7 linked regions of the Homo sapiens genome follow. The protein of the gene in region 7 purifies or fractionates together with the protein of the main gene of each other region. This does not show direct contact. Each region holds a gene or a part of one and is shown on either strand. Other genes may lie near its edges.

Evidence for each region.
Region 1: the proteins of DHFR (region 7) and ACTR3 fractionate together in Homo sapiens (co-fractionation; one large-scale study listed by BioGRID). This does not show direct contact.
Region 2: the proteins of DHFR (region 7) and TBC1D2B purify together in Homo sapiens (affinity purification with mass spectrometry; one large-scale study listed by BioGRID and IntAct). This does not show direct contact.
Region 3: the proteins of DHFR (region 7) and ARHGEF5 purify together in Homo sapiens (affinity purification with mass spectrometry; one large-scale study listed by BioGRID and IntAct). This does not show direct contact.
Region 4: the proteins of DHFR (region 7) and HELZ purify together in Homo sapiens (affinity purification with mass spectrometry; one large-scale study listed by BioGRID and IntAct). This does not show direct contact.
Region 5: the proteins of DHFR (region 7) and NLRP2 purify together in Homo sapiens (affinity purification with mass spectrometry; one large-scale study listed by BioGRID and IntAct). This does not show direct contact.
Region 6: the proteins of DHFR (region 7) and DNMBP purify together in Homo sapiens (affinity purification with mass spectrometry; one large-scale study listed by BioGRID and IntAct). This does not show direct contact.

What each region holds. Positions count from the first base shown.
Region 1 is NC_000002.12:113,928,089-113,931,588, reverse strand, and holds part of ACTR3 (actin-related protein 3), read right to left. Parts: intron 289-3,500; coding exon 193-288; intron 1-192. UniProt on the Homo sapiens protein: ATP-binding component of the Arp2/3 complex, a multiprotein complex that mediates actin polymerization upon stimulation by nucleation-promoting factor (NPF).
Region 2 is NC_000015.10:78,071,212-78,074,711, reverse strand, and holds part of TBC1D2B (TBC1 domain family member 2B), read left to right. Parts: intron 1-3,500. UniProt on the Homo sapiens protein: GTPase-activating protein that plays a role in the early steps of endocytosis.
Region 3 is NC_000007.14:144,372,402-144,375,901, forward strand, and holds part of ARHGEF5 (rho guanine nucleotide exchange factor 5), read left to right. Parts: coding exon 1-27; intron 28-281; coding exon 282-356; intron 357-793; coding exon 794-883; intron 884-2,330; coding exon 2,331-2,488; intron 2,489-3,112; coding exon 3,113-3,274; intron 3,275-3,500. UniProt on the Homo sapiens protein: Guanine nucleotide exchange factor which activates Rho GTPases. Strongly activates RHOA. Also strongly activates RHOB, weakly activates RHOC and RHOG and shows no effect on RHOD, RHOV, RHOQ or RAC1.
Region 4 is NC_000017.11:67,105,697-67,109,196, forward strand, and holds part of HELZ (probable helicase with zinc finger domain), read right to left. Parts: coding exon 3,420-3,500; intron 3,031-3,419; coding exon 2,796-3,030; intron 1,990-2,795; coding exon 1,473-1,989; intron 1-1,472. UniProt on the Homo sapiens protein: May act as a helicase that plays a role in RNA metabolism in multiple tissues and organs within the developing embryo.
Region 5 is NC_000019.10:54,976,374-54,979,873, reverse strand, and holds part of NLRP2 (NACHT, LRR and PYD domains-containing protein 2), read right to left. Parts: intron 2,123-3,500; coding exon 2,051-2,122; intron 1-2,050. UniProt on the Homo sapiens protein: Suppresses TNF- and CD40-induced NFKB1 activity at the level of the IKK complex, by inhibiting NFKBIA degradation induced by TNF. When associated with PYCARD, activates CASP1, leading to the secretion of mature pro-inflammatory cytokine IL1B.
Region 6 is NC_000010.11:99,880,948-99,884,447, reverse strand, and holds part of DNMBP (dynamin-binding protein), read left to right. Parts: intron 1-238; coding exon 239-437; intron 438-3,247; exon of another isoform or gene 3,248-3,345; intron 3,346-3,500. UniProt on the Homo sapiens protein: Plays a critical role as a guanine nucleotide exchange factor (GEF) for CDC42 in several intracellular processes associated with the actin and microtubule cytoskeleton.
Region 7 is NC_000005.10:80,634,484-80,637,983, reverse strand, and holds part of DHFR (dihydrofolate reductase), read left to right. Parts: coding exon 1-101; intron 102-3,500.

The sequences.
Region 1 (3,500 bases), on a different chromosome or scaffold from region 7:
CTCTTTTCCTGACTAAATATCTCCACTTCCCATAATATTACTTCTAAATTAACAATTCAGGAGAGAAGTATAACATGCTTTGACATTATGTTTAAACCTTTGCAGAAAAAAAAAAAAAGTACGTATTTTAGGCAGCAAATTAAACTAGGTTAAAATGTAAGAATCAAACTTAGAAAGTATGAACTTGCTTACCTGCACAGCAATGTACAAGCCTGGAACATTGAAGGACTCAAACATTATTTCAGCAGTATATTCCCTGTTTTCTGGAGTATTCAATGGAGGTTCAGTCTATTGAAATAAATAACATTTTAAATAGATAATATCAGATTATTTTGATAACTTTCTTGACAATTTTTAAATGAGAAGTAATTTATTTCAAACATTTTATTTAAAATGCATTAAATTTACAAGTAGAAAGACAGACACAGAGATCAAAGGAAAACTATAGAGAATTCAAACATCCATACATATATGAAAACAGTATGGTAATTCACATTTTAAAAAAAAAATACCCTGAATGCCTATATCATACCACTTATACAGATTAAACATTAAAAAGAAATGAAGCAGGGAGAGAGAGGGTTGGAGGTAGGGAAAAGGTGGTCCAGTCAAATCATCCTTTAAATATGGTAATGACAAACCTCCAGAAAAAACATCAATGGTATTTGCCAGTGGGAGAGCCCTCATCTAAGTAATGCTTTTAGATGAATGTCCCCGAAGTATATAGGATTACAGTAAACAAGCCGAGATTCTACAGATCTAATGGTACAGCTTTCTGAAAAATGTTATATTAATTTACCTGTTAAGAGCATAGAATCAAGATGTTTGCAGAGCACTCTTCTGTTTATGTGACTGTATACATCACTTAGAAACCTCACAGGTTAAGTCTGGGACAGAACACACTCTAAAGAGGCAAGGAAGGACTCAGAGATCTGGCAGTCTTGGACTTCATATTTCACCTATGCCTCATGATCACTTAAACTGTTTCAATTTTTAAAGATTAACACTGGGTAAGACCTCTGATTCTTGTGAGTCTGACTGGCAATCTAATAGGTATCTCAAATACTTAAATGTAAAAGAAAAATTTTTAAATTTAAAAAAGACACAGAATTCTCTTTTTGACCTTAAGGTAGGAATAACTCCTTAAATTTCTGAAGTACAAATCACAAAGGGAAAAAGTGATAAAACTTGAATCCATTAAAAATTAAATATTTTTAAAATTATTATTTCAAAAGAAATATAAAGCAAAACAACTAAGTATACTGTTACCTTACATAAAACCTTTATAAGCTAAACTCCCTGTGGTGTTTAAACTTCTTTAGAAGAGTTCTGGAGCTATGTTTAAAAGTCTGGAGATAATTTACTGATGAATACATACAAAATTAAGTAAACTAAAAACCAAGGCAGTGAAATTATAAACTCCAAGAAAAAAAATCTACATAAAAGATAATCAGAGGACCCCACAAAGGAAAATATACAAATAGCTAATAATAACAATCGTACATGAAAGACTGCTCAACATAATTATCAGAAAATGAAAATTAAAATTAAAAGCAAATGAAAAATCGTACACACCCACCAGAACGGCTAAAATTTTAAAGACTGACAAGCTAGCAGCGCAGTGGCTCACATCTATAATCCCAGCACTTTGGGAGGCCGAGGTGGGCAGATTACTTGAGACTAGAAGTTCAAGACCAGCCTGGCCAACATGGCAAAATCCTGTCTCTACTAAAATTACAAAAGTTAGCCAGGTGTGGTGGTGCATGCCTGTAATCCCAGCTACTCAGGAGGCTGAGGCACAAGAATCCCTTAAACCTGGGAGGCGGGGAGGTTTCAGTGAGCCAAGATCACACCACTGCACTCCAGCCTGGGTGACAGAGCAAGACTGTCTCAAAAAAAAAGTATAAAAGATTGATAAGCCAAATCTTGAATAGAGCAAGCAGATTACTAATGCATCACTGGGGGGTGTGCAAAAAGGTTCACCATCTTGGGAAAAGTTCCCATGAGTTTCCCTAAAAAACCAATCAGGTACCTACCCTATGACGCTGCAATTCCATACTTACGTATTTAGACAAGAGAAATGAAAACATATGTCCACAAAAAGTCTTGTAGAAGAAGGTTCACAATGGTCAAATTATTTTATTATAACCAAAAACTAGAACTAAGCCAGGCATGGTGGCAGCACTTTGAGAGGCCATGGCGGGAGGATCACTTGGAGCCCAGGAGTTCAAGACCAGCCTGGGTGACAAAGTGAGACTCCATCTCTAAACCAGAACACATTACCCAGGTGTGGTGGCCCGGGCCTGTGTGTCCTAGCTACTCAGGAATCTGAGCTGGGAGAACTGTTTGAGCTGGGAGGTCAACACTGCAATGAGCCATGATTGATCCACTGCATTCCAGCCTGAGCAACAGAGCAAAACCCTGTCTTAAAAAAACAAAAACAAAAACAAAAAAAAAACAAAAATAGCCCAGGTATTCATCAACAGGAAAATGGATAAAGTGAGGCAAATTTATACAATGGAATACTACCCAGCAACAAAAAGCAACAAATCACCAGTATATGCAACATAATTCAATCTCCAGATTATGCTAAGTAAAAGTGTTTCACCAAAATGCACATATTGCATGATTCCATTATTTGACACTCAAACATGGGCAAAGCTAATCTCAGATGAAAAAGAAACAGTGGTTGTCACTAGGGCACGGGGGCAGAGATTAATTACAAAAGGGCATGAGAAAACTTTCCACGCTGATAGTAATTTCTCTATATCTTGGTAAGAGTTTAGGTTACACAGATGTATGTAACTGACAAAGATTGGACAAATCACATCATGCATCCTGCAGGTCAAATACAGCCCACCACCTGTTTTGGTAAAAAAAAAAAATTTATTGGAACACAGACATACCTATGAATTTAAGTATTGTCTATGGCTGCTAACATGCTACAACAGCACAGCTGAGTAGCTGTGACAGGGACCATTGTATAAAAAGTTCTCATTAAGTTTCCTCAGGGACTATAACCCCTGCAAAGCCAAAAATATTTGCTATCTGCTCCCTTAGAAAGTTTGCCAAACCCTGGTCAAAATCCACTGAATGGTGCAGACCGGTGATTTTATGATATGTAAATTTTATATGAAAAGAATAACCATACACAAATGATAGCTCTAGTTGATGAAATACGTGCTAAAGTATTTAGGGGTCAAATGACTCCCATTTGCAACTCACTTTGAAGTGATTTAAAAACTAAAATGAAGTGAAAGATGGATAGACGTCATGAAGCAATTATAGCCAAATGTTAAGGTTAATCATCGAATCTAGATTGTGGGTGTATGAGTGTCCATAGTATGGTTCTTTCAACTTTATAGTCCATCACAATCACCGAAAGACACAGAATATTGATTTAACCAAAAATTGTGATGTAACTACAATGCGAGGAGTGGGAAAGGATAGGTATTTTGTGTTGAGGGAGAGAAAAGGTAAAAAGGGAAATTCTCATTTTT
Region 2 (3,500 bases), on a different chromosome or scaffold from region 7:
ATAAGGATGTATGCTCTTTCGCGAGGGGAAGAGCTTTATGGGGCTGATGAGCTCTGGTTTCCAGGTAGTGGTTGCCTGTGATGGGAAGAGGGAGGATGTGATTGGGAATGGGTGCCTCAGGGCTTCTCCTGTTTTGCAGTGTTTTATTTCTTGGACTGGGTCATAGGTATATCAGTGTTTGTCCTATTATGCTATCCATCTTTTTGTAGGTTCAGAATATTTCTTTTTTTAAAGAAAGGAAATACATTTTCCTTTGGGTTACTGACAATGGAGGAATATTTTGACATGTAAAATTAAATTGGTCACAGAATAAGATAGTACCGAGTGTTGGCTGTATACAACAATGGGAATGGAAATCAGGCAAGGCTTTCTGGAAGAAGGGAGGAGAAGGCCGGGCGTGGTGGCTCATGCCTGTAATCCCAGCACTTTGGGAGGCCGAGGCGAGTGGATCACTTGAGGTCAGGAGTTCGAGACCAGCCTGGCCAATATGGTGAAACCCCATCTCTACTAAAAATACAAAAATTGGCTGGGCATGGTGGCGCACGCTGTAGTCCCAGCTGCTCGCGAGGCTGAGGCAGGAGAATTGCATGAACCCGGGAGGCGGAGGTTGCAGTGAGCCGAGATCACACCACTGCACTCCAGCCTGAGCGACAGAGTGAGACTCCACCTTAAAAACAAACAAACAAACAAACAAACAAGCAAAAAACACCCCGACTCTAAAACCCTGCTCCCTTTTTTTTTTTGAAACAGAGTCTTGCTGTGTCGCCCAGGCTGGAGTGCAGTGGCACAGTCTCTGCTAACTGCAACCTCTGGCTCCCGGGTTCAAGCAATTCTCCTGCCTCAGCCTTCCGAGCTGAGGGACTATAGGCGCGTGCCACCGCTCCCAGCTAATTTTTGTATTTTTAGTAGAGACGGGGTTTCACCATATTGGCCAGGCTGGTCTCGAACTCCTGACCTCGTGATCCACCTGCCTCTGCCTCTCAAAGTGCTGGGGTTACAGATATGAGCCACCGCACCCAGCCAGGCGTGTGTTTTAAGAAAATTAAATTTCATTGTACAGTTATTTCTTTTGAGCTGTAGGAGTAAAATCTTTATGGTGTAAGTATGGAAATTACCAATTTATCTTCCTTTTCGTCTTTCAAATGCAAGAACTGATTCCCTTAAGCCTTAATGTTTCACTTTAGGGCTGCCCAGCCATAGAGGAGACCCTGATTTCTAAGGATTTTAAGTTAGGATTTAGCCCTGCTCAGACTTCAGCTAGTGGTATATAATTTTACAAATACCATTTCTTATCACAGAGGGTTAAAAAGTAAAGAAAAATCAGCACTTTTCTTATTCTATTATCATATGTTTTTCTTATTTAAAAGTGTCTTTCAGCTCTCTCTGGAGAAGCTGTGGTTTTGTTGGGCTTTTTCAAAATGTTTTTCTATGTAAGTCTTAATGAAAGCTGATATAGGAATTTCTTGGGAAACTCCTCTATTCCCAAACTTAGGGATTTGATCTGGTGCCTTATGAGGTAATAGAGGCTAGAGAGGGGATGTGATTTTGCCAACATCATGAAGCTAGACTCAGACCCTCTCTGAAAGTAGAGGCTCCAGGAATAGTGAATGTCTAAAATGTGTAGTATCTAATTGTATTGTCTGTTCTGACAAGTCTGCTTTTTTTTGACTTTGTTGGGGATCGGATAAGGCGTAGTAGTAGTCTTTCCTTCTATTGCATTTAATATCTGTCCTTTTTGGATAGTGGGTATCACAAGGGAACATTTTACTGCCCAGTTCTTTACCAGGATGCCTAGTACCTTTTGCTGGACATGTCTGGAAACTGCTGCAAGGGTCTAGCAGAGGCTGATGCTTCCTGTGTGCGTCTCTCTCTGTGTGTAGGGGTGCTGGAGGCTTCTCACAGAGCTTTACTGGAATCTGAGGCACTTAGGGGAAGGAGAGCATGTGACTGACCGAGGGTGAAGCTTAAACAGCCTTGATCTTCCAGATCTCTGCAGACTTTGGAGCAAGAGAGCGTCATCAGACCGTCAGCAAATGAATTCCTCCCTCCGTAGGTGCTTGGTGCTAAATAGACATGTGTACTGGTTTCTGAGCCACACGTAACTGAATAGCTGTGTACCCCTATTCTTAACCACTTTTGTGGGAATGCACATTCCCTGGTGTTGAAATTTCTCTTAATGACAAACATTTGTCGGCTTGGGTAATCATATTGTTTTCAGTGCAAAATAGATGTGGTGAACCAGCCTCCTTTGCTGTTTGGTTCTTCTAAGCTGTTCTGCCCTAGGGCATCTGCTCAGTCTTGAAGCATTATTTAACTCTTTAAGTTATGGGAATTTAACTTTTCATGGCTTTCCAATTAGTAAGTTCCTTCAAGGCAAGTCCAGTATTGTGCTTGTGATATCACAGTGGCATTCCGTCTCCCTCTCCCACTGCCTCACACAGTCCTCATTGCAGGGGAGTCTCCATCCTATTTCCTGCTAACCAGAGGGTAAGCTCCCTAAGGACTGTGTGTATCCTCAGCTCCTGCAACAGTATCTGGCACAAAGGAGACATGCTATAAACTAGTGTTTGTGTTCCTGAAAAATTCGTATGTTGAAGTGCCAGCTCCCAGTGTGATGATATTTAGAGGTGGGGCCTTTGGGAGGTAATTAACTCATGAGGGTGGAGCCTTCACGAATGGGATTAGTGCCTTTATAAAAAGAGACCCTGGAGAGATGATCTCCCCTTCCACCTATGAGGATACAGCAAAAAGGCATTCCTTTGCAAACCAGGAAGAGGGCCCCCGCCAGGAACCAAATTGACCAGCACCTTGATTTTGGACATTCCAGCCTTCAGAACTGAGTAAATTTCTGTTGTTTAAGCCACTTAGTCTGTGGTGTTTTTGTTATAACAGCCTGAACCGACTAAGGTAAGGTGCCCAGGTAGACATTTGTTGCATGAATGAATAGAAAATGGTCACCCAGTAAGCACTGGTTTTGGTGTGAGCCCTGACCCTTTAGAAGTGATCAGCCAGAACTCCCAAATATACAGGTGTATTACATGCCATTCTTGCCTCATGTCATGGAGGTGGCAGCCATTCAGTGAATGCCCACTGAATTTAACAGACATCAGGAATCCAAAAGGGGGTTATGACTCACCCTTCCCCAGAGGAGAGAGCTTACAGTCAGTTCCATATTTTCGGGTCTCATATATTTCATGCCCATGGTCAGGACTCCAAGGACACTGTTATAGCAGAGGCAAACTTTTTATGTAAAGGGCCACATACTATTTTAGGTTTTGCGCACTCTGCCATATCTGTCACTATGCTGTTGTAGTACAGAAACAACCACAGAATGAGTATAGCTGTGTTTTAACTTTTAGTTATGGACTCTGAAATTTGGATTTCATATAATTTTCACATTTCGCAAAATATTCTTTTGATTTTTTTCAACCATTTAAAAATGTTAGCTGGGCACAGTGGCTCACTCCTGTAATCCCAGCACTTTGGGAGGCCGAAATGGG
Region 3 (3,500 bases), on a different chromosome or scaffold from region 7:
ATCACCCGCCTCAAACTGCTGCTCCAGGTAGGGCAGATGCTACCTTGATCCTCTCCCCTTAACTCAAAGGGATGCCCTCAGGAAGACCCACAACAAAGGACCAACCATTCTTCTGCCAGGTGTCCACATCCTGTCTCCCTGCTGCCCACTGCCTGCTTGCTTGGAAATATTTGCTGCTAAAATGTGGTCCCTGGGCTTCTCCATTCACCAGCCCCCAATCATTTCTTCCTGTTTCCCATTTCTTCCTCCCATCTCACTCCTGCCTACTGTCTGTTCAATAGAACATTCTGAAGAGAACACAGCCTGGCTCCTCGGAGGAGGCAGAGGCCACGAAGGCACACCACGCCCTGGAGCAGGTAGGCAGCCACCACCTCCACTCTGACCCTCTGTGTGTTCTTCTCAGAGAGGTCTTTCCCACCTAGGCCCATGACTCCAGGGAGCATGGGAGGTGGGACCCTGTTGGGAGAGCTCAGCCACCTCCCTGCATCCGCCAAACTTCCAAACATACACACCCCACGGCCACCTCTCCCACGCCGAGCACACTCCACATCAAGGGACTGTGCCCTCTCCACCATCACCCCCCCATTCAGTCTCACTTTTACTCAGTTCAGGAATGTTCTGCCAAGTCATACAAAGTTGCCTAGGACTTGTGCTTGATACTGCCTGCCCAATTCCAGCCTGGGAAAAATGACTGAGGCTGTCATAACCTATTTCCAGATTGCTTGCAAGGGACTCAAAGGTCAAAGCCTCTAACACAGTGCCCTTCCCCTTTCCTCACTCTCTGCACCCCTAGCTGATCCGGGACTGCAATAACAATGTCCAGAGTATGCGACGGACAGAGGAACTAATCTACCTGAGCCAGAAGATTGAGTTTGAGTGCAAAGTGAGTCGGTCCCATGCACCCCATCCCTGCCCATGAACTCCCTTAACATGTCCTGCAGATCACCCCCTAACCTGGAACCACCTTGCTCACATTATCCCCAGCCCCTCCCCTCATTTCTGCCCACCTTCTATTCTGTCCTATTTCTGGGAGGCCTACTTGGGTCTCCAAGACATACTGCTAAGTGAAATGATGAAGGTAAAGAATTGTGTGTATATTATATCACCTTTGGTATAAAAGTGGGAGGATACAAATCTATACAGGTGTCTGCTTGTGTGTGCATAAGGAAACTCTGGAAGGAGAACAAGAAAAAAAGGAACAGTGGTTACCTGAGGACAAGGGGGGTGCATTTGAGAAATGGGCAAATGAGAGAGAACTTTTCAGGATGAGCCTTTATAAAAGAATGTTTTGGTGCTTGATTCATTTATTACTTTATCAAATCTCTTTCTAGTCTAATCAAACCCACATAAGATTGGATCCAAATTTAGAGCCAGCATCCCTCATTGAAATACAAATCTAAAATAGACATTCCACATTCAAATTCCAACTTAGAACAGATACTATCTTTTTTTTTTTTTTGACAGAGTCTCACTCTGTCGCCCCAGGCTAGAGTGCAGTGGTGCGATCTTGGCTCACTGCAACCTCCACCTCCCAGGTTCAAGCGATTCTCATGCCTTGGCCTCCCGAGTAGCTGGGATTCCAGGTCTGCACCACCATGTCTGGCTAATTTTAGTATTTTTAGTAGAGATGGGGTTTCACCATGTTGGCCAAGCTGATCTCCAACTCGTAGCCTCAAGTGATCCACCCACCTCTGCCTTCCAAAGTGCTGGGATTATAGGCGTGAGCCACCACGCTCGTGCTTAGAACACATACTATCTTTACACTCCTGAAAAAGAAGGAAAATCCCTTATTCACATACTAAGCATAGACCACACCCTCATCTTTAACCAAATTCCAGCTCCAAGACGCCCCACCTAGTTCTTCTCACCCCCATGTTTGATTCCAGCTGCTCACATATCTCTGGTATAAAAAATGGAATTGATACCAGACCTGCCTCTAATATTTTATTTTAACCTCTAAGACACATATAGTGTTCACTGACTTGTTCCATCACATACCCTGATTGGACTCTTCCATCCCTCCTTCAGTTCAGGCTTCTAGGGCAGAGCTGTCCCACACACTCACTATCCTGAGTTGGACCATAGGCATCTTCTATTTACCTGAGCATACAACCATGGGAGCCACACACCAGTGGACAGTGGTAGTTAGAGGGTTCAGAGAGAAAGAGAATCTAAGTGATGGGTTATGAGCCAGAAGGCAGATGTGGAAGAGATGCTTGTTCAAGTGGAACTTGCATGGAAGTGGCATGGGGAGGAGGGTGGGACTGGGAGCAAACCTCATGCTTCTCCCATCTGTGACACTGCCTTCTCTCTCTTCCTCTGCCCTGTAGATATTCCCGCTCATTTCTCAGTCACGCTGGCTGGTGAAAAGTGGGGAGCTGACAGCCTTGGAGTTCAGTGCTTCCCCAGGGCTACGAAGGAAGCTGAACACGCGTCCAGTCCACCTGCACCTCTTCAATGACTGTCTGCTGCTGTCTCGGCCCCGAGAGTCAGTGACTGGAGTGGCAGGCCAGGGCACAAGAGGGGAAGGGGATGAGGAAAGAGGGGGGTCTGAAAGGGAGAGAGAAGGGTCATGTTCCTAGAAGAGCCCTTCTCAATGGCTTAACCCATAGAGCCCAGGTCATAGCCTAGAGAAGAGAAAAACAAGCCCAAAGCAAAAAGGGGATCCCATCAAACTGTATCATGAGACCACATAGCAGGACATGTAATATGGTATAGACACAGAGCAAAATGTAGCAAATTAGCTTATCACATTCTCACATGAGTCTATTTGTGGCTTCTTTGGACTGGCCTCAACCTGCTATTCTAGAGATACTTAGCTAATTCCAGAGCTTAAGTCTCTGGTCTTAAGGTTCTTGGGAAATGTATATAAATTCCATCTCTTCACCTCTTTAAAGTGGTAATGTATCCACTGCACTAGGTGTGTGGTTTGCCAGACTAGGACAAATCCCTGAGGACCCTGGAGCTACCATCTTGGGAGCAAGTTAGGACCATCTTATGGTTTTTGTGGGAATTTGCAGGCTGTAGATGTAGGGATTTCGAACCCAAGGTTATGAGGGTAGGTGAAGTATGGAAACTCTAGAATCAGGTTGAAAAGATTTGTATTTTGCAGGGGTAGCCGATTCCTGGTATTTGACCATGCTCCCTTCTCCTCCATTCGGGGGGAAAAGTGTGAAATGAAGCTACATGGACCTCACAAAAACCTGTTCCGACTCTTTCTGCGGCAGAACACTCAGGGCGCCCAGGCCGAGTTCCTCTTCCGCACGGAGACTCAGTGAGATGGGGCTGGGCAGAGGAGCTGGGGGTGGGGGAAGATGGGCAGCCGAGAAAAGAAGTGAGACCAAGGCAGAAAATGTGTCCAGAAGACAGCCACAGCCTCATTTAGCCCATTCTGGACTGGGGACCACCATAGAGAAATTCAGACTCCTAAAACTAATGGATAACTTGCAGGAGATTGGGGTGGGAGAGGGTACAAAGTCACCACCGAGGCTTAGCATCTA
Region 4 (3,500 bases), on a different chromosome or scaffold from region 7:
CTGAAAGACTGTCAGATGTGTGCCAAATTTTTGTAAAGTATGGTTCCAAAATTCTAGATCCTCACAATACATATATGTAGATACCAATTCATCTTTATTGTGCTTCTAACTTACTTTAAGAGCCTAAAATCACAGTAAGTTGTTTTAATGACAGCTATACAGAATGAGCCAATCAATGAATACTGGGACAATTTGAACAGACTGCCTCTAAATCCCTACAAATAAGACATACAGCTTTCCCTATGAATCTTGACTTTTAATTAGCATCTATAGCAGGCAACTTGTAAAATGTGAATCAATTATTTCTAATGGCCTTTAGATATCATTCTGAAACTGCCAAAATGAAGCTAATATCAAAAAAGTATTTTTCATATATCAAAATTAGAAATCTTTATCCTGATTTAAGATGTCTCTGTCTGATATGACTACAACCGGCTTTACACATTTTTATCTTTAATCACTGCAAATTTAATGGGATCAGCTAGACATTTTTGTAGCCTACACCACATGGTACTGCTTTGGAAGTTTTATAACCTGGAATTACTAAGTTTTTCATAGGAAAAAAAAGTCCATAAAGATGCTCTTTAGAAATATCTAAGTATTTTACTTTATTTATTTATTTTTTTTTTTGAGACAGAGTCTTGCTCTGTCGCCCACGCTGGAGTGCAGTGGCATATCTTGGCTCACTGCAAGCTCAGCCTCCCGGGTTCACGCCATTCTCCTGCCTCAGCCTCCCGAGTAGCTGGGACTACAGGCGCCCGCCACCACGCCCAGCTAATTTTTTCTATTTTTAGTAGAGACGGGGTTTCACCGTGTTAGCCAGGATGGTCTCGATCTCCTGACCTCGTGATCTGCCCGCCTCGGCCTCCCCAAGTGCTGGGATTACAAGCGTGAGCCACTGCACCCGGCAGAAATATCTAAGTATTTTAAGATAAAATTCAGTTTAACTTAAAATGCTTAGTTTAGCACAGTCAATTTTATGTTAAAAATCTGCAAATTCTGATATTTGGGAATCAGAGTCCCTGGGTCTAACAAAGCACCAGGCTGAGTGGCAGGAGAAGGAGCACAGCACTTGGAGCTGGCACTGGCTGAAAAGCCAGCATCTTTGGAAAGTTCTCATTAACAAATTTATAATTAACACATGTAACTTAAAGCGAAAAGAAGAATCACTAAAAGCCATTTCCTCAGATTAAAAAAAGACAAAGCTCCTTGAATAGAGTCCTCAGATATTCAATATTTTCTTTAAACAGCAATAAAAGACTTTTAAGGGGCTTCATGTTTCAACAAAAGTGTCCACTTTACAAAACCTGAAATACAATAGGAGGGTGGCAATTAAAATAATTCCCAAGAAAGGATTATCTTTAATACGCTGTTAAATTCAATAAGATCTGTGCCTTCCTATTATCAAATCAATAAATACTGATATTTTTCACAATCAGCTAATAACAAAAGGAAAATAAGAAGACATTTACCTCTTCTAAGCTAGGGAGCGAAGAAGAAGATACTGTTCGAGATGACAATGGGTGAAATGGCTCTTGACCAATAGCATGTTGATGATTCTGTATTTGTACAAAAGGGTTCTGCGGTGGCCTGTGAGGCAATGGAGGTAGGCCATAGGGAAAACCTGGCCCCATTAGGTGATTCTGTTGCAAGTTAGCAAAAGTCCATGCTCCATCAGGTGCCAGGTATTTCAAGGGAGGAGGGGCAAGGTGTTCAGATGGCAACGAGAAAGGTGAGTTGAATATCTGGGGTGGGAGGCGCTGTGGAAATGCTGGGTTGCTGGCTACTTCAATGTCTCTGCTGTTATCATTAAAGTTAGAAAAGTGGCTACTGTGGTCTGTACTGGATGGGGGAGATGGGACTGCTGGTGGGCTTCTACTCTGTACTTGTCTATATTGCAAAAGTCTTGATTGAGGTGGTGGCATTTCAGCTAGTTCCCGTGTTTCACTTTGATCACGATGAGACAGTTCTCTGATTAAGTCTTGAAACCTACATGAAAACAATAAAATATGAGGAGAAAACAAAAGGCTCCATCACATTAAGGAAAGCTTAGTCAACTACACATGTATTTTCAACAAACAAAATCATAGTACTAATAACTAGAACTGGCATTAATTCATCTCAGATGTAAGCATTAACACTCAATAGATGCTGAGGTGAAGAAATTAAATATGCTCAATTACCTGATTTCTTTCTGTTCCCATTGTATTAAAAACATCTGTCCTTGTCTCTATACAGCTTTGACAACTGGAAGTTATAAAAGGTCACCATGATGGTGGACCTTATTCAGAAGGGATTAGGAAACACTTCAGAGCATTCATGTGACACTGGCCACAAAAACAAGCTTAGAGTTAGGACCAAATACTCATATGTAGCTGGAATTATAGGAATGTAGAATTCTGTGCCACCATAAAAATAATTAATGATATAATTTTTAGCTTTTAACCACGAATTTACTCCTGTCTTTATTCATTCTTTGCAAGTATTACTACTAAATAAAAAAAGCTGCTCACAGTGATGGTATGTTTCTCTCGCAGAAAAGACCACAAAGTAAGGGAACAAGTTAATTTCCAACCCATAGTAGATCATCCATGCCTAAATTTGTAGAAGAGTTACTTCTAAATGAGTTTTCTGTATTTTAGAGTCAACAAGAGAACTGTGTAGCGTGTGCTTGGAAGGCCAGCATCCAATTTCTCTGAGGCAATATTCCAGCTTGAAGCTAAAAGGACTACAGTCAAAAAAGAGAACAGTGAGGGGGTCGCATTCCAGGGGCTATTTTCAGTCCGCTGGAATACCTTGAGTATGTGGTCTCCACTTCATCTTCGGCACTGCTGGTGAGCTTCCAGTCTGCCCTCACTGGCGGCTGATGTAATCCCAGGGGCGGCTGAGGAAGATGCTGGAGGTGAGGATGGTGATGGTGTGGGTATGGAGCGCTGCCCTGACTGAGAAAGGCATGATGCTCGCTCCACTGCTGGAACCGTGCCTGCTGCTGCCTTAATGTTTCCAGAGCGACACTCCCATGTATACGATCTGCAAAAATATTTGTGAAAAATTTTTTATGAATTTGGGGTTTCAAGTTCATTATTTAAAGTTTTTTACTAACATATTTTCTCCACAAAGACAAAGGACGTAGCTACAAATTTGGTTTTGGTAAGAAGTAAATGTTTTCTAAATTTGCCAGAAATCAGTTATGGTGATGATGATGACAACTCTTCCTCACTTACATAATGATGATCCTGACATCCACTGGATACTATCATACAGCATTTAGAACTAGTTTCTGATTATCACACTAAATGGGGGGGTTTTGCTAGCATTATTTGAAGAAACAATTCAATCTTAACCCAAAATGATATTATACAGTCCAAGTCATGTTAAGTAATCTCTGAATTTTCACATCTGGCAGTAATAGAACTTACCTAAAGCCTCCCCTATAGGTAATCCCGAGGGGTTCTCATCAATGAAGCTATTCAGATGTGAAGGAAGAATGGGGCCGGGTT
Region 5 (3,500 bases), on a different chromosome or scaffold from region 7:
ACCTGGGTAGCAGAGGTTGCAGTGGGCCAAGATTGCACCACTGCACTCCAGTCTGGGCAACAGAGTGAGACTCCATCTCAAGAAAAAAAAAGATTGTGTGCCAGGAATGACATTGGCCGTGTCTAGAGAGATGAACAGGGCAAACAATTCCTTCAACCAAGTTACTCACCTCTATTATACAGAGCCATAGCAAGAAATACTTGCTGTATCAAAAGTCAATGTGGGCTAGGTACGGTGGCTCATGCCTGTAATCCCAGCACTTTGGGAGGCCGAAGTGGGTGGATCACCTGAGGTCAGGAGTTCAAGACCAGCCTGCCCAACATGGTGAAACCCTGTCTACTAAAAATAAAACTAACAAATGCAAAAATTAGCCAGATGTGGTGGTGGGCGCCTATGATCCCAGCTACTCGGGAGGCTGAGGCAGAATCACTTGAACCTGGGAGGTGGAGGTTGTGGCGAGCCGAGATCACACCATTGCACTCTAGCCTGGGCGACAAGGGCAAAACTCTTTCTCAAGAAAAAACAAAAATGCTACCAGGAAGATAAGAGGGAATGTGGAGTAAGCAAGGCTGATCTGAAACTGATCACAGGCTAGGTGCGGTGGTTCACAGCTGTAATCCCAGCACTTTAGGAGACCGAGGTAGGTGGATCACTTGAGGTCAGGAGTTCTAGACCAACCTGGCTACCCTGTTGAAACCCCATCTGTACTAAAAACACAAAAGTTAGCCAGGCATAGTGGTGGGCACCTATAGTCCCAGCACCTGGGGAGGCTGTGGCAGGAAGACCCCTTGAACCCAGGAGGCAGAGATTGCAGTGAGCCAAGATGGGGCCACTGCACTCCAGCCTGCATGACAGAGTGAGACTCTATTTCAAAAACAAAAAAAACAGAAAAAACCTATCACAAAGTCAGCTCAGGCAAGTCACCTACCCAAAAGACTCAATTTTCTCTGTAAGTTGTTTATATTAAAGTTGTCTGAGCAATGTACCATAAATACATTTATGCCTGTCAATTTTTTTTTTTTTTTTTTAAGATGGAGTCTCGCACTGTTGCCAGGCTGGAGTGCAGTGGCACAATCTTGGCTCACTGCAACCTCCACCTCCCGGGTTCAAGCGATTCTCCTGCCTCAGCCTCCTGAGTAGCTGGGACTACAGGCGGGTGCCACCACACCCGGCTAATTTTTGTGTTTTTAGTAGAGTTGGGTTTCACCATGTTGGCCAGGATGGTCTCGATCTCTTGATCCACCCGCCTCAGCCTCCCAAAGTGCTGGGAGATTATAGGTGAGAGCCACCACACCTGGCCACCTGTCAACTTTTAAATAATTTAAAGAAGGCCGGGTACGGTGGCTCTCGCCTGTAATCCCAGCACTTCGGGAGACTTGGGGGTGGGTGGAGCAGATCTCTTGAGGTCAGGAGTTTGAGACCACCCTGAATGAGATGGTGAAACCTGTCTCTACTAAAAGTACAAAAAAAAATTAGCTGGGCGTGGTGGCATGCACCTGTAGTCCCAGCTACTCAGGAGGCTGAGACAGGACAATCACTTGAATCTGGGAGGCGGAGGTTGCAGTGAACAGGGATGGTGCCACTATACTCCAGCCTGGGTGACAAGAACAAGACTTCGTCTCAAAAAAAAAAAAAAAAATTAGCTGGGTGTGGTGGCAGGTGCCTATAATCCCAGCTACTCAGGAGGCTGAGTCAGGAGAATCAGGAGAATCGCTTGAACCTGGGAGGTGGAGGTTACAGTGAGCCGAGATCGCGCCATTGCATTCCAACCTGGCCAACAGAGAAACTGTCTCAAAACAAAAACAAAAACAAAAACTCTCTGCGCTGTGCTCCTAACTTTCTACAAACTGAGTTCTAATTCTCTGCAACGTTCGTTCTTCCCTCTATTCTTACGGAAGGGAGGTTGGCATTCTCCAGGAGACAGTGGGCACATTAAGAATAGTGGAGGAAAAGATTGGAGAGAGATGGGGTTCTTCAAAGGAACAGGAGATAGCAGCAAGAACGGGGGGCTTCCTCAGCTGACTCCAACATTGGAGGTCCTGACACCCACCTTGTGCTTCTGTTTTGAAGCGCTCCAGCATTTCGTCCACGTCTAGAGGTGGTCGTTCTTTCCGTGTTATCCCTGGAGAAAAAGGGCGGCATTACAGGCCTGTTGCTGTGCTGGCAGTGGGACTCCAAGATGGCTCAAGTTGGACCCCTGAGTCTCAGTAGTGAAGCCTAGATTAGGTACTAAAAAGGACGTTGATAAGGTACTGGATGTAAAAGTGAAAGTACATTAGGCCATGATCCCAGGTTTATGTGCCTTTCTGGTGAGAATTCCTAAGTAGTTCAGAACACATGGTGTGAAAGACACACACACACACACACACACACACACACACACACAAACTACTCACGCATAAGGCCACTGGAAAGGCTTTGAGGATTAACTGCCTAGTTTTTCTTTTTTTTTGAGATGTAGTTTTGCTCTTGTTGCCCAGGCTGGAATGCAATGGTGTGATGTCGGCTCACTGCAACCTCCGCCTCCTGGGTTCAAGTGATTCTCCTGCCTCGGCCTCCGGAGTAGCTGGGATTACAGGAATGTGCCACCATACCTGGCTAATTTTGTATTTTTAGTACAGACAGGGTTTCTCTACGTTGGTCAGGCTGGTCTCGAACTCCCAACCTCAGGTGATCTGCCTGCCAGGCCTAACCCCCTAGTTTCTGATGAGGTAGATAAATTTAAAATGAACTGGGAAAGAATGTAAGAACAAGGTGGAATCAGCCGGGCATGGTGGCTCATGCCTGTAACCCAACACTTTGGGAGGCCAAGGCAGGCGGATCATGAGGTCAGGAGATCGAGACCATCCCGGCCAACATGGTGAAGCCCCGTCTCTACTAAAACAAAAAATTAGCCGGGCATGGTGGTGTGTTACCTGTAAGTCCCAGCTACTTGCGAGGCTGAGGCAAGGGAATTGCTTGAACCCAGGAGGCGGAGATTGCAGTGAGCCAAGATCGCTCCACTGCACTTCAGCCTGGCAAAAGAGCAAGCGAGACTCCGTATCAAAAAAAAAAAAAAAAAGAGAGAGAACAAGGTGGAATCCTAATAACAATATCTGCAGCTTAACCCTGGATAATGAAGAGGTGAGTCCATGGAACTCCTGAAAAGATGCTGGGGAGGGAACTGGACACGGGCATGTGAAATTCAGGACAAAGGCTGATCTGAGAAGAGCCTTTAGAGTCTTCACCACCAGGTGAGGTGGCTCATGCCTGTAATCCCAGTACTTTGTGAGGCTGAGGCAGACAGTTCATTTGAGGTCAGCAGTTTGAGACCAGCCTGGCCAACATGGTGAAACCCTGTCTCTACTAAAAATACAAAAATTAGCCAGACGTGGTGGTAGGCGCCTGTAATCCCAGCTACTTGGGAGGCTAAGGCAGGAGAATCACTTGAACCTGGGAGGCGGAGGCTGCAGTGAGATTGTACCACTGCACTCCAGCCTGGGTGACAGAGCAAGACTCTG
Region 6 (3,500 bases), on a different chromosome or scaffold from region 7:
GTAAGAATAGGTGTGTGTTAAATTTTCTTAACTATAAAGGCATCAAACATTGCCTAAGGGCTCTTGATTTTTACCTAGCCACATGGGCTGGCTTCATCACAAAAACATCTGATGGGAGTGAGATGGGCAGTGACTGACTGTCCCTGCCTCATTTCTGAGACTGGCCACATGTTGGGATGAAATATGGCTGCTGGGGTAGTGGCCACTGAGAGATTTTTGTTAACGTCTTACCTTTCAGCCAAGTTACATGCTACAGTCAGAAGAACTCCGGGCCTCCCTCCTGGCCAGGTATCCCCCTGAAAAACTCTTCCAGGCAGAACGGAACTTCAATGCTGCTCAAGACTTGGATGTCTCACTTTTGGAAGGTGACCTGGTGGGTGTGATTAAGAAAAAAGACCCCATGGGCAGCCAGAACCGCTGGCTGATTGACAATGGAGGTAAGAATTTTAAGCAGCAGAGGACTGTAACTGGAAAAAAAAAATAGTAGTTTTGGCTGCACCCGAATCTGGACTAGGCCAGGAAAAAAAAGCAAAAAGTATCTTTGATTAAGGGGAAAAATAACCTGAAAAATAACCTTAACCTTCTCTAGAGAGTGAAGATCATTACTGAAACAAAACCTCTTTTTGTTTTGACAAATTCCAGAGGAGACACCGTTGCTTATCATGCAAGCTCTTGCCATATCTTACAGCACTTACAGGCAGGAAGTCCTGCCTCACGGAATCCTGTTCCTTCTTAGCCTGTTCCCAGTATGCCACAAAATAAGCTGCCCTCTTTTCAAATTTTTTTTTTTTTTTTTTTTTTTTTTTTTTGTGGCAGTCTTGCTCTGTTATCCAGGCTGGAGTGCAGTGGCACAATCATAGCTTATTACTCCTGGGTTCAAGGGATCCTCCTGTCCTAGCTGGGACTACAGGTATGCCATCATGCCCAGCTAATTTTTTAATAATTTTATAGATATTACGTCTTGCCATGTTGTCCAGGCTGGTCTCCAACTTCTAGGCTCAAGCCGTCCTCCTGCCTGGACCTCCTAAAATGCTGGGATTATAGGTGTGAGCCACCGCACCCAGCACCTCTTCCAGTTTCCATGAATTTGTCTTGTGGAAATTAAAAACCTGTGGGATTTCATTTGCTTTCTTCTCCCCATGACAGTTTTACCTCATGACTATTTAGGGAATTACTTTAAAAACAGCTTACAACTTTTTTGGAGGGAGAGTGATTTACAGAATTTAAGTAAGTGTACAAGGGATAATACTGATCTGTAATCCCTTTTTCCAAAATCCAAAAAGCTCTAAAAACACTTTTGCCAAAACCTGAATGAAGGTGATGTGAGACTATTTATAATTGTAACTTATCCTTTTGGTGTGAATAGTCATGTGTATGTATTTTTCATTTTTATTATTTTTTAAGACAGGGTCTAGCTCTGTCACCCAGGCTAGAGTGCAGCAGCACGATCTCAGCTCACTGCAACCTCTGCCTTCAAGCGATTCTCCTGCCTCAGCCTCACAAGTAGCACGCACCACCACACCTGGCTAACTGTTTGTATTTTTTGTAGAGACGGGGTTTCACCATGTTGACCAGGCTGGTCTCCAACTCCTAACCTCAGGTGTTCCATCCCGCCTTGACCTTCCAAAGTGCCAGGATTACAAGCATGAGCCACGGCACCTGGCCTTATTTTTTTTTAAATGCTTGATTGCAATCTGATTCAGCCAAGAGGTTGCTCACATCATGGGTGGATGACTACATCTCCAACATGAATGACACAAAAACATCAGAACTTTCCTATTTGCAATTATGTGAGATACTTTAAGTTTTAGTTTATAACTGACACATACTTGTTCATATCTATGGGGTACGGTGCGATAATTTTGAGATAGGGTCTAGCTTTGTCACCCAGGCTGGATTGTAGGGGCACAATCTTGGCTCACTGCAGCCTCCACCTCCCAGGCTCAAGCAATCCTCCTGTCTCGGCCTCCTGAGTAGCTGGGACCAGAGGCATGCGTGACCATGCCCAGTTAATTTTATTTTAGTAGAGACAGTCTCCCTGTGTTGCCCAGGCTATAAACTTGTCATTTCTTTGCAGAGATATCATTCAGAATCCTTGGCTTCTAGCCATCTTGAAATATACATTATCATTAGCTATAGTAACCTTACTGTGCAATAGAACACCAGAGCTTATTTCTCCTAACTTTGTACCTGTTGAGCAACCTCTCCCCAGACTCACCTCCCCTTCCACCACCCCCAGCCTCTGGTATCTAGCATTCTACTCTCAACCTCTATGAGATCAACTTGTCTAGATTCCACGTGAATGAGATTATATGGTATTTGTCTTTCTGCGCCTGGCTCATTTCACTTAACGTGTCCTCCAGGTTCAACCATGTGGCCGCAAATGACAGGATCTCATTCTGAATATTCATTAACAGAATTGATTACGGGGTGCTGACCCTGCTGGGGGGTTTTACAAAATATGTAGTATGGGTACTTGACTACCTTCCCAGAATTAAAAAGAATCTGAATTCCAAAACATATCTGGCCCTAAGCATTTTAGGTAGGGATTGTGGTCCCTATCTAGACAGACATTATGTATTCACCACCCAGAACTGAAAAATGTCACATTTCTTGGTTTCTTTAAAAGCATCTTGTGGATTTTTTTTCTCCCCACTTCTGCTTACACAGAACGAGAGATTAAAAGTGGGACACGAAGGACAGAGGATGGAGCCTGTTAGGGTGACATCAGGTGACAGCTACTGCTGGGGTCAGAGACAGATGGACCTAAAGTCCCAAGCTGTTTAAGAAACTGCTCCATCCTTCAGTTTTTATCTACTCAAACTTGAGAAGTGGTAGCAGGAAGCCACAGTATTCAGATCAGCTGTCAGGTACAGGAAATGCATCAAAGATCAATAGAGTAATGGCCATTGTTCTCATGGAGGCTACATACTCTGGGTCTGTGCCTTGACAGTGTTATGAAAAATTGTCACGTGGATGCTCACGCAATCCCTAATTTATACTTGAGTTTTAGCTGAAAGCCCCCTTGGTCATCTTGGGCAATTTATTAAAGTGAACCATGTGCAGTACACGTTACGTGTATATTCTAACAAACAGTTTCCTACGTTAGAACATCCTTCCAGTATATCCAGACTCTCAGAGCAAAGGATTCACGTGTCCTGGTGGGAAAGAGGGCAGGGAGGTCTATGGAGGGGCTTCTTGAGCTGAGGCTTTTTTTTTGAGACGGAGTTTCGTTCTTGTTGCCCAGGTTGGAGTGCAATGGCATGGTCTTGGCTCACTGCAACATCTGGCTCCTGGGTTCAAGCGATTCTCCTGCCTTAGCCTCCTGAGTAGCTGGGATTACAGGTGCGCACCACCACATCCGGCTAATATTTTCGTATTTTTAATAGAGACGGGGCTTCACCATGTTGGCCAGGCTGGTTGTGAACTCCTGACCTCTGGTGATCTGCCCTCCTCAGCCACCCAAAGTGCCTGGATTACAGGTATGAGCCACTGTACCC
Region 7 (3,500 bases):
TTTCCAGAAGTCTAGATGATGCCTTAAAACTTACTGAACAACCAGAATTAGCAAATAAAGTAGACATGGTCTGGATAGTTGGTGGCAGTTCTGTTTATAAGGTAAGTGTAGTTGTTGGTAAATAAAAACAAATGTTCTGTTCTACTTTCAGCTTCCTTGCCATTTAAAGGAAGTGGAAGAAACAGGTATAACTCATTGTCTGAACCTTTAAAAAATTAAGCCATGCGTATAGGAAGCAGCACATTATCTGTACTGTAAATTATTTGTTGTTAGTTGAAATTATTTGTTGTTTGATACTATACAAACTAAATAGAAATGCAAAAATAAATATTTTAGTCTGTATCAGCCTTTTTTATTTATTCATTTATTTTTGAGACAGGGTCTTGCTTTGTCACCCAGGCTAGTGTGCAGTGGCACTGTCTCACTGTAGCCTCGAGCTCCAAGGCCCAAGCAATCCTCCCACCTTTCCTCCCAAGTAGCTGGGATTATAGGCACACACCATCGTGCCCGGCTAATTTTTGTATATTTTGTAGAGTCAGGATTTTGCCATGTTGCCCAGGCCGGTCTTGAACTCCTGGGTTCAGGCAATTCACCTCCCAATGTGCTGGGATTACAGGTGTGAACCACCACACCCAGCCTATTTATCTTTTTAATTGGCAAATAATTGCATATATATATATATATATATATATATATATTATGTACAACATGTTGTTTTGAAATGTGTATACATTGTAGAATGGCTAAATGGAGCTAATTAACATGTATTACCCACTTATTTTGTGTGGTAAGAACACTTAAAGTCTACTCTCTTAGCAATTTTCAAGAATACATTTGTTATTAACTAAAATAATAGATGTTGTACAATAGATCTCTTGAACTTACTCCTCCTATGTAACTGAAATTTTGTATCCTGTGACCAACATCTCCCCAATACCAATCTACTTTCAAATCAAAGAATAATTGATGTTTCCAATTTAAAATCCATTCTAAATCTTTTCCTGAGAATTGTACTTGCATTGCACTGGTTTCTACTCCCTGAATGTACCCTAGATACACTGAGTTATGCCTTTGTCTTTCAGGATGAATATATCTCTTACTGAGAAAGGGTTGGGGCTCTCAGTTGATATACACTAACTAGATGTATATGAATTTATTACAAGTAGAAAACTTCTTCAACCAATTTTTTTTTGTTTTGTTTTTGTTTTTTTGAGATGGAGTCTCACTCTGTCAAGACTCAGTCGCCCAGGCTGGAGTGCAGTGACACGATCTTCGGCTCACTGCAAGCTCCACCTGCCAGATTGACGCCATTCTCCTGCCTCAGCCTCCTGAGTAGCTGGGACTACAGGCGCATGCCACCACACCTGGCTAATTTTTTTGTATTTTTAGTAGAGACGGGGTTTCACTGTGTTAGCCAGGATGGTCTCAATCTCCTGACCTGCTGATCCACGCACCTCGGCCTCCCAAAGTGTTGGGATTACAGGCGTGACCCACTGCGCCCGGCCAATATACCTCTTTTTTAATACCAAATGACTTCCAGCTTTAAAATTTTTGAGGATAACAAATAGAATTCTTTGCCTTTTAAAACACCAATGAAAAATTAACATTTATGAGGAGGAAGAAAAATCTAGTTTCTGCCATGTGGGTGGTCTTGTGGTAAGATATATACAGTGAAATTATTTTAGAAAGAAGAGGTAGGCCGACGCCTGTAATCCCAGCACTTTGGGAGGCCAAGGCGGGTGGATTGCTTGAGGTCAGGATCTAAAAACCAGCTGGGCCAAGATGGTGAAACTCCATCTCTCCTAAAAATACAAAAATTAGTTGTGTGTGGGCGCGGGCCCCTGTAGTCCCAGCTACTTGGGAGGCTGAGGTGGGAAAATCACTTGAACATGGGGGGCAGAGGTTGCAGTAAGCTGAGATCGTGCCACTGCACTCCAGCCTGGGTAACAGAGTGAGACTCTGTCTCAAAAAAAAAAAAAAAAAAAAAAAAAACTCTCAGTTTCTTGGGCTCCTGTTTCTAGAACCTCTTATGTTCCCCATTTGTAATAGAAGAAAAGGGACATTTTTTCTTGATATTTTTATCCAAGTATGAATTTCTTCTAAGAAAACAAGTTATTTATTTTGTTCAGTGCCTACCACACTTTGAATGATTCATTACCATAGTCACTTGAAAATGTATTCTTTAAGCAATATAAGTACGTAAATGCCTTTATATAATATGATAAATCTACATATAGATAAATAGGAAGTAGAACCTTCGAATGGTATTTTTACACCTGCCTCACATCACAACAGCTTGTAGATATCATTCAGGCTTATCTTCCTATGGGCCAAATCGGACCTCCCAGCCTGTTTTTGTAAAGAAAGTTTCAGTGGAACACAGACCCACCCATTCATTCAGTTCTGTCTGTGGCCTGCAAAGGTAGGAAACCCTATGGCCCTCAGAGCCTAAAATATTTACCATCACTCCTTTTACAGAAGGTTTGCCTTGTATAATCAACTTTTTTTTTCTTTTTTTTTGAGACGGAGTTTCGCTCTTTTTGCCCAGGCTGGAGCGCAATGGTGCAGTCTTGGCTCACCGCAACCTCCGCCTCCCGGGTTCAAGTGATTCTCCTGCCTCAGCCTCCCAAGTAGCTGGGATTACAGGCATGCGCCACCACGCCCAGCTAATTTTGTATTTTAAGTAGAGATGGAGTTTCTCCATGTTGGTCGGGCTGGTCTCAAACTCCTGACTTCAGGTGATCCACCTGCCTCGGCCTCCCAAAGTGCTGGGATTACAGACGTAAGCCACTGCAGCCGACTTATAATCAACTTTAATGCAGAACTTCACCACCACAGTCAATCTAATAATCCAGACAGCTCCTAAGTGACTAAGGGGCAGGTAACATAGACAGCATGTGCAGGACAAAGGGATAATTCACGCCCTAGGCAGGACAGAGCAGAATGGCTCAAGATTTCTTCACACTACTTAGAACAGCATGTCATTTAAATCTTATGAATTATTTCTGGAATTTTCCAGTTAATATTTTCAGACCACAGTTGACCATAGATAACAAACTGGAAAGTGAAACTGCAGATAAGGGGGGAGTCTGCATTCCACTTTTTAAATTTTTGGTACAGTAAGAATTAGTAGAGCATCTATTTGGTTGTAGCAAAGATAATAAATGATTTAATATAAAATGATATATTGAAAATAAAAAGTGAAATTTGTTCTGTACCCTTATTTGGAATTTTAAAAATAAACACTTGGATTTGTTGTGTGTGTGTGTGTGTGTGTGTATTTTTCTTTTCTATAAACTATTTGAGATCAAGAATTACTGCTTTGTTAGAATTGCAATTAAGACATACTTTTTATGAATGAGAATTTTAATACACTCATTCTAGGGCAACTTTTTCTGTAGAAATTATCAACCATATTTTAGGCAGTAGTTAGAAAAGTCATGTACAATATAAAGCCAAATGTTAATACAATTGTTAGCACCAAGAAGCAGAAAAATTAC